2 separate regions of the Homo sapiens genome follow, and region 1 is linked to region 2. Evidence: fine-mapped expression QTL. A gene starts in region 2. The other region holds a variant in brackets. All regions are shown on one strand. Distances are between the middles of the regions.

Evidence for each region. PIP is the estimated chance that this variant, and not a neighbour inherited with it, causes the effect. A credible set is the group of variants that fine-mapping cannot tell apart.
Region 1: its variant is the best candidate, but not a certain one, in a credible set for the expression of REC8 in blood mononuclear cells (TOPMed, PIP 0.50).

The regions. Positions count from the first base shown.
Region 1 is chr14:24,192,238-24,196,619 of GRCh38, reverse strand. TM9SF1 (transmembrane 9 superfamily member 1) reads left to right here and starts at 1,179. Exons shown (of 6, transcript NM_006405.7): 1 at 1,179-1,274; 2 at 1,584-1,945; 3 at 3,351-3,972; 4 at 4,264-4,382. The coding sequence starts at 1,601. RefSeq lists enhancers at 281-520, 771-830, 900-1,599 and silencers at 1,031-1,090, 1,231-1,410. The variant TA/A (reference allele first, on the strand shown) is at 2,361.
Region 2 is chr14:24,169,897-24,174,278 of GRCh38, reverse strand. It overlaps REC8 (REC8 meiotic recombination protein), which reads right to left and starts at 2,199. Exons shown (of 19, transcript NM_001048205.2): 1 at 1,671-2,199; 2 at 1,498-1,566; 3 at 1,238-1,380; 4 at 1,081-1,153; 5 at 868-988. The coding sequence starts at 1,726. RefSeq lists enhancers at 1,969-2,218, 2,287-2,787 and a silencer at 2,389-2,438.

The DNA of each region.
Region 1 (4,382 bases), 22 kb before region 2:
CTGGGGAGAGAGAAGCTTAAGTCCACTTCCTTACACGTTGCTCCCAGGTGGCAAAACAGAAGTCACTGCTCAAAGGTCCGATTTTCAAGGGGAACTCCCTAGACGGCAGATCCCCTTTAAAACAGCTGAGACAAACACAAGGGTAAACTTTTTCAAAATAATCTGCCATACAAAGTGAAGAGAAGCCCAAAGACATACACAGTGATAAATAAGAACAAAAACATAGACTAACGGACCTCGAGATACTTTACCGTCAATTAACAATAACCATGTTAGGCTGCCCAACTCACAGAGTCAAAGGACAGACCTCTCTCCTTGCGCGCCTCTGCGCCAAACCGGGTTTCGGCTTGCTTATCGTGGGCTCTGAACGGTCACTGTGCGGCCAGGGAAGTCTCCAGCACAGCCTCGGGAAGACATTCCTATTACATATTTATCACTTTGGCGCTGGCCATTCGTGACAGGTGGGAGACGAGTGAGGTGAGATTCAGATGTTGGGACCCTTGCATGGGACAGATGCCCAAAGCTTCGCCCCTTCCCCGGTTTGGGGGCCACGAACCGCCTCTCAGGGCTCAGCCTCAGCAGCAGGTGGTTCAGCCGGAAAGTGCTTCGAACCCAGACGCCGCCTGCGCTCCATCTCCCCGGCCCTCGCTAGTCCCGTCCCGCGGGGACAGCTCTCGGGCCTCGGCCAGCGCGAGCCTCCTGGCCAAGAGCTCTCAAACCCCAAATCTTTCCAGGAGCAAGCGAGCGGCCTAGCAGCCACTCCTCTCCCGAAGGGGTGTCAGGGTCCTCGCTGCCAGGCCTCAGCCCCCTCCCCGGGAAGCCGTCGCGAAGGAGTCCCCAGGGGCCGCAGCAGCGAAGGCCCTCTGCGTTCCAGGCAAGGAGCTTTCCGCCAGGCTGAGGTCGCCGCCGGTGAGGGCGGAAGTGGTAAGACTGACGTGTCCTGGGCCGCGCTGCCGATCGCCGGGAGGACCCCCGCCTCGCCGAAGACGGGCGGGGCAAGCCGAGCCTCACGGGGTCCCCGGAGCTGGGCCGGGCCTCCAGATGGAGAAGGCGCAACGGGGAGTTCTTGAGTAAGCCAGAGCGGTGTCCAGCGCGGTGTAGCCGCAGCCGCCGCTGTCAGGCGCAGCAACGGGCAACCCCGTAGAAGTCGGTCGGCAGGTCCTCTCCAACCCGCCGCTACCGCGCCGCTGTGGGAGAGACCCCAGCAGGAGCCCAAAGGCAGCTACGGGGGCGCGAAGGCCGCTGGCGCCGCCTCGGCCAGCCCTTCCCGCGCGGTGAGGACCCCGGGGCTGTGGCGGGAAGGGACCCGAGGTGCGAGACCGAGCGGCGTTGCCATGGAAACGGGCCAGGGCGCGTAGTAGAGGCCCCGGGCCAGACGGGCTGCGGGTGGGGTGAACCCCAGGTTGGGAGGATGAGAGAGCAGAGGTGGAGCGGGGTCTTTGGGATAGAGAGACGTGGGGTAGGGTGAGGCGGGGAGGGGGCCAATGGGAGCAAGTGGAGCCAGGGGACCTCAGTTCGAGGCACCTGACCTGGGGTTTCTGTAACCTCCCTGGTTTCTATAACCTCAGGATTCCCCCAAACAGGTTCCACTGCCTTAAGGATGACAGTCGTAGGGAACCCTCGAAGTTGGAGCTGCCAGTGGTTGCCAATCCTGATACTGTTGCTGGGCACAGGCCATGGGCCAGGGGTGGAAGGCGTGACACACTACAAGGCCGGCGACCCTGTTATTCTGTATGTCAACAAAGTGGGACCCTACCATAACCCTCAGGAAACTTACCACTACTATCAGCTTCCAGTCTGCTGCCCTGAGAAGATACGTCACAAAAGCCTTAGCCTGGGTGAAGTGCTGGATGGGGACCGAATGGCTGAGTCTTTGTATGAGATCCGCTTTCGGGAAAACGTGGAGAAGAGAATTCTGTGCCACATGCAGCTCAGTTCTGCACAGGTCAGCCTCTCCACATTGGCTATCACGTAGCCCTCCTTCCCAGAGACTAACAGTGCCTTACATTTATGGTTCAGGGTACCTTTATGGAAATTGTCTGATTTGATTCTAACTACAATACAACCCAGTGTGGCAGGCAGGTTAGGTGATGCTATTCTAATTCAGTTGACTAAGATACATACTTGCTCAGAAGTTACTTTTTTCAAGATTACATGGACAGTGATTTGCAGAACTGATATCAGAGCCCAGGGTTTCTTACTGCAAGCTTCTCTGTTGGTCATGAGGTCCCAACTATCAGTCCCACATAGTTCTGTTTCCTTCCATGCCTACCTCTTGGCTGTTTCTTAGCTGTTTCCTGTAGTCTCTACCTAAACTTCCCTGTCATGCTTTTTCTTTAGTGAATCCTGGTACTTCTCCT[TA/A]GTCCACTCCAGACCTCCTTATACCTCACCGCTCTCCTTTTTCTAGGCCTTAACCCTGTCAAGCCATACTTGCTCTTTTTTGGAGAATCTCAACATACTAGAGTCTAACCCAGTGATTGTCAACAGGGAACAGTTTTGTCCCCCAAGGGACATTTAGCAATGTCTGGAGACATTTTTTGTTGTTACAGCTGGGGGGGTACTACCAGCATAGAATGGGAAGAGGCCAGGAAAGCTACATCCTACAGTGCACGGGATAACCCCACTATGACAAAGAATTATCCAACCCAGGCTGGGTGTGGTGGCTCACTCCTGTAATCCCAGCACTTTTTTTTTTTTTTTGAGACAGAGTCTTGCTCTGTCGCCCAGGCTGGAGTGCCGTGGCGCAATCTCGGCTCACTGCAAGCTCCACCTCCCGGGTTCACGCCATTCTCCTGCCTCAGCCTCCCGAGTAGCTGGGACTACAGGCGCCCGCCACCACGCCCAGCTAATTTTTTGTATTTTTAGTAGAGACGGGGTTTCACCGTGTTAGCCAGGATGGTCTCGATCTCCTGACCTCGTGATCTGCCCGCCTCGGCCTCCCAAAGTGTTGGGATTACAGGCATGAGCCTCCGCACCCGACCAATCCCAGCACTTTGGGAGGCCGAGGCAGGCAGATCATGAGGTCAGGAATTTGAGACTAGCCTGGCCAACATGGTGAAACCCTGTCTCTACTAAAAATACAAAAATTAGCTGGGTGTGGTGGTGGGCGCCTGTAATCCCAGCTACTCGGGAGGCTGAGGCAGGAGAATTGCTTGAACCCAGGAGGCAGAAGTTGCAGTAAGCCGAGATCGCACCACTGCACTCCAGCCTGGGTGACAGAGCAAGACTCCATCTCGAAAAAAAAGAATTATCCACCCCAAAATATCAGTAGTGCTGAAGGTGAGAAACTTTGCTGTAACTCTGCGCCTGGGGAGATCTTGTGTGACCAACTCCTGACTTGCTCTTTATAGGTGGAGCAGCTGCGCCAGGCCATTGAAGAACTGTACTACTTTGAATTTGTGGTAGATGACTTGCCAATCCGGGGCTTTGTGGGCTACATGGAGGAGAGTGGTTTCCTGCCACACAGCCACAAGATAGGACTCTGGACCCATTTGGACTTCCACCTAGAATTCCATGGAGACCGAATTATATTTGCCAATGTTTCAGTGCGGGACGTCAAGCCCCACAGCTTGGATGGGTTACGACCTGACGAGTTCCTAGGCCTTACCCACACTTATAGCGTGCGCTGGTCTGAGACTTCAGTGGAGCGTCGGAGTGACAGGCGCCGTGGTGACGATGGTGGTTTCTTTCCTCGAACACTGGAAATCCATTGGTTGTCCATCATCAACTCCATGGTGCTTGTGTTTTTACTGGTGGGTTTTGTGGCTGTCATTCTAATGCGTGTGCTTCGGAATGACCTGGCTCGGTACAACTTAGATGAGGAGACCACCTCTGCAGGTTCTGGTGATGACTTTGACCAGGGTGACAATGGCTGGAAAATTATCCATACAGATGTCTTCCGCTTCCCCCCATACCGTGGTCTGCTCTGTGCTGTGCTTGGCGTGGGTGCCCAGTTCCTGGCCCTTGGCACTGGTGAGGTGATAAAAATGAATTGGGGATTTATCTCATGGGATAGAACTAGGTAGGGAGTTTGTTCAGAAAAGGTCTGTGGATCTTCTCTTCTATCCAGAGGGGCAGACCTAAGGGATAGGGTGGCTCTAGCAAGAATGCACGTATTCTATTGTAGATTTTCTGGATAGCAAAACTGGGGGAGATTGTTTTGCTGGAGGCCCTGGGTCTGGGAGAAGGGGGGCTGATTCCTCTGAAATTGCTAGAAGAGACACAGGTGAGGCCTAACTTGGGCTTTCCGCTACCGTCCTGCAGGCATTATTGTCATGGCACTGCTGGGCATGTTCAATGTGCACCGTCATGGGGCCATTAACTCAGCAGCCATCTTGTTGTATGCCCTGACCTGCTGCATCTCTGGCTACGTGTCCAGCCAC
Region 2 (4,382 bases):
AGCGCGATGGCTCACGTCTGTAATCCTAGCACTTTGGAAAGCCAGGGTGGGTGGATCACCTGAGGTCTGGAGTTCGAGACCAGCCTGGCCGATAAGGCGAAACCCTAAAAAAATTGGGCCGGGCTCTGTGGCTCATGTCTGTAATCCCAGCACTTCAGGAGGAGGAGACAGGCAGATCATGAGGTCAGGGGTTCGAAACCAGCCTGGCCAGCATGGTGAAACCCTGTCTCAACTAAAAATACAAAATCAGTTGGGCATGGTGGCAAATGCCTGTAGTCCCAGCTACTCGGGAGGCTGAGGCAGGAGAATTGCTTGAACCGGGGAGGCAGAGGTTGCAGTAAGCTGAGATCGTGCCACTGCACTCCAGCCTGGGCCACAGAGCAAGATCCTGTCTCAAAAATAATAATAATAATAGTAATAAAATAAAAAAAGAAATAAATGGGGCATGGAGAGCCCCAAATGCTAGTAATCTGTTTGCAGCAGGAGCCACTGTTCAAATGGGGAACCAAGGAAGGGGGTGACATTAAGCTGTAGGAGTATTGGGAATAGATGGAGGAGGACAGGGGTAAGAAAGCCCAGTGCAGAGAGATGAGAGCCTGGATTAGGGCCTTGGCAGTGAAAACAGTGTGGAGACAAGTGGGGACAAGAGCTGCCTCCAGTGGGGAAACCGTCTGATCAGATTGGCCCTGAGTAGGTAAGTACAGGGGGCTTCGCCTGGATGGGTCCACCTTGGCAGTCCCCCTGCACCATCTCCTGTGGGAGAGAGCTGTGGTAAGCTTCCTTCCCCAACCCCAATGTCAGAGTGACACAGGGACAGCACTCCCCTTCTGCATTGCCAATTCACGAGTCTTGGGGAATGAGCCCTACCTGAGGGATATCGAAAGGACTAGGAAGTCTGGGATCCACAGACATCATCCCAAAAAAGGGATCTGGAGCATCTTCTAGGGTCTCCATCATGGCCAGGTGGTTAGGAAGCAGCAGGCTGGGTCTGGGAGAGAATGTAGGCCGTGAAGGACTGAGGCTGAGCCAGGCTGAGGCCAAGCTAGCAGGTGTTCCATCAAAGGCCCAGGGCACACTCACAGCTCAGTCTCCATATCTATTCGGATCTGCAGCTGGGCACGGTGGAGGCGCTCCAAGATGTGCTGGATGTCCTCTGTGGGCAGGGAGGACGAGGTAGACAGCCAGCTTAGCAGACAGCTGCTCAGCCCGCCCCACCTTTGAGGGTTCCCAGCCTTACCCACGAGGTACTGGCATTGTTGAGAATAGACGCGGATCACACCGATCTGAAGTTGGGCTGAGAGATAGAGGGAGAAGCGGGGCCGCGGCAGGCCGGGCTGCGGGGGTTGCACTCGTACCAGCACGTAATTGAGGATTTCCTCGCTGGGGAACAATGCGCCCTGATTACCGCTGCGTCCAGGAGTGGGCCCACAGTCTTGGCCACCCCATCCCCTAACTCACCCCCCGCACCAGGCCCTCCTTCCCTTTTCTGGGCCTTACCAGGTTTTCACCACATTCACCCTCAGGTATTCGCGCTTCACCAACCGGCTGCCGCGAGTCGCCGCCAGCCTGAAGTGGGTGGGGAAGGTGGGAGAATGGGGATGGAGGGGGAGCTGTCAGGCTGGGATCCCGGGCAGCGTCCGCCATCGCGCGCCAACGGGCCCCGCCCTTACCAGATGGTGGCAAAGCAGCCGGTGTGGCGCTGAAGCACGTTGGGATAGTAGAACATTGTCCCTCTGGTCTTTCACCCTCGATTCCACCAGATCCCCGTTCGGATCTGAGTCGGAATTCTTTAGGGCACAGAATTCCCAACACCTTGGAGAGAAGTCAGGATTTGGACTTCTCTGGTGGCAAGGTGGGTGCACCTAGAAAGCCAAGTTAATGAGGCAACGAACAATGGGCAGATACACAATTACCAGGATAACTGAGACGCAGGAGATGGGCGCCCCTCTCTGTGGACCCTCAGTGGATCCGCACGCCACGTGATGCGTCAAACTTGAGACTTCTGGGTTGGGTTCCAGGTTGGAGATGCAGAGCTCCAAGGGGACGTCCGGGCCGGAATCCAGAGCAGGTCCCGAGGGAGCACGGTGTCCTCCACAGCAGGCCTCGGTCCTCGAGCGCTGGGAGCGATGTCAGGCCCCTGGGCCTTGCACTGGCTTGGGCGGCCGCGGTGTGGCCCCGGGCCGCCTACTGCAGGACTAGATCGCACCGCGGGAAGCGAGCGCTTCGGGGCACCGCACCTCGCTCCTCATTAGATGGCGGCTTTTGCCCTGACAGCCAATGGGGAACGGGGGTCGGGTCGGGAACGCCAAGTATCCTGGCAACAGGGTCTCCCGAGGCAGCCAGCAAACCAATCATAAGGATTTTGCGCGCCGCTGGGGTCCATTGTGAGGTGTTCCGACCAATGGGCTCCGGTTCTCGCCTCTAGTAACAGGCGCCCCTTCCTTGACCAATGAGCGCATCCCCGTCGCTCCCCCGCCGCTCCCCCGCCGCAAGCCTGGCAACAAGGGCGCCTCAATTGGTAGGGGAGGTCGGGTCACCTCGGGGGCAACTGTACTGGGCCTCTTCCGGGTGCCAAGATGTACCTTGCACGGCGCCTGACCTGAGGTTAGACCCCGCCCTTCCCCCAATCCACAAACTCCGACTTTGTTTCCAACTAGGGCGTGTCGTGTGCTGCAGAGGAAGAAAGATGTGAGATGAGGCCGGGCGCAGTGGCTCACGCCTGTAATCCTAGCACTTTGGGAGGCCGAGGCGGGCGGATCATGAGGTTAGGAGTTCGAGTCCAGCCTGACCAATATGGTGAAACCCCGTCTCTATTAAAAATGCAAAAGTTAGCTGGGCGTGGTGGCACGCGCCTGTAATCCCAGCTACTCAGGAGGCTGAGGCAGGAGAATGCTTGAACCTGGGAGGCGGAGGTTGCAGTGAGCCGAGATCATGCAGCTCCACTCCAACCTGGGCAAGGGAGCAAGACTCCGTCTCAAAAAAAAAAAAAAAAAAAAAGGCTGTGAGATGATGGCCTTGGAGCCACCACAGGTCAATGAGGAAGAAGTCCATTTTTTTTTTTTTTGATGGCCTTGGAGCCACCACAGGTCAATGAGGAAGAAGTCCATTTTTTTTTTTTTTTTTTGAGATGGAGGCTCTCACTGTTGCCCAGGCTGGAATGCAGTGGCGCTATCTCGGCAATCTCGGCTCACTGCATCCTCTGCCCCCCATCCCCTCAGGTTCAAGCGATTCTCGTGTCTTGGCCTCCTGAGTAGCTGGGATTACAGGCGCCCTCCATCACACCCAACTAATTTTTGCATTTTTAGAAGAGACGGGATTTCACTATGTTGGCCAGGCTGGTTTCTTTTTTTTTTGAGATGGAGTTTCACTCTGTCACCCAGGCTGGAGTGCAGTGGCGCAGTCTCAGCTCATTGCAGCCTCCGCCTCCCCGGTGCAGGGGATTCTCCTGCCTCAGGCTCCCGAGTAGCTGGGATTACAGGCGCCCACCACCACACCTGGCTAAATTTTGTATTTTTTAGTAGAGACAGGGGTTTCACCATGTTGGCCAGGCTGGTCTCGAACTCCTGACCTCAGGTGATCCGCCCGCCTTGGCCTCCCAAAGTGCTGGGATTACAGGCGTGAGCCACTGCCCCCAGCTGAAGAAGTCAATCTTACACGAAACTCCGAAAGGACTTACTGGGGTCACTTCCTAAATCTGAACAACTTAGGTTATGGGCACGCCACGTGTGGTCCTTTCCCAGCTGTCAGTGTTCTCCCGGCTGAAATAGACTTTAGCATTTTTGGATGCAGCACAACTTCCTAGCCTGGAAAAGCCATATTCTCAACAATTATTGTGTAAATTTAAGAGGTACAGTTGTAATAATAACCCTTGTCCCTATGCCTCCTACCTTTGCACAGCCATTTCTTTGGCCTAGAATGTCCTTCTCTGCCTTGACTCCAGAGCATGCTTCTTCCTGAGACTTATATCTTACTGCAGCTGAGCTGACCCTATCTTCTTACAGTCCCCTTCAATTTGAGAGTTTTTTTTTTTTTTTTTTTTTTTTTTTTCTGAGATGGAATTTTGCTTGTCGCCCAGGCTGGAGTGCAATGGACCATCTTGGCTCAGTGCAACCTCCGCCTCCTGGGTTCAAGCAATTCTCCTACCTAAGCCTCCTGAGTAGCTGGGACTACAGGCATGTGCCACTATGCCTGGCTAATTTTTTTGTATTTTTAGTAGAGACAGGGTTTCAACCATGTTGGCCAGGCTGGTCTCAAACTCCTGACCTCAGGTGACACCCGCCTCGGCCTCTCAAATTACATGCCTATAGTCACAGCTACTCAGAAGGCTGAGACAGGAGGATCGATTGAGCCGAAGGTCGAGGCTGCAGTGAGCCATGATTGCA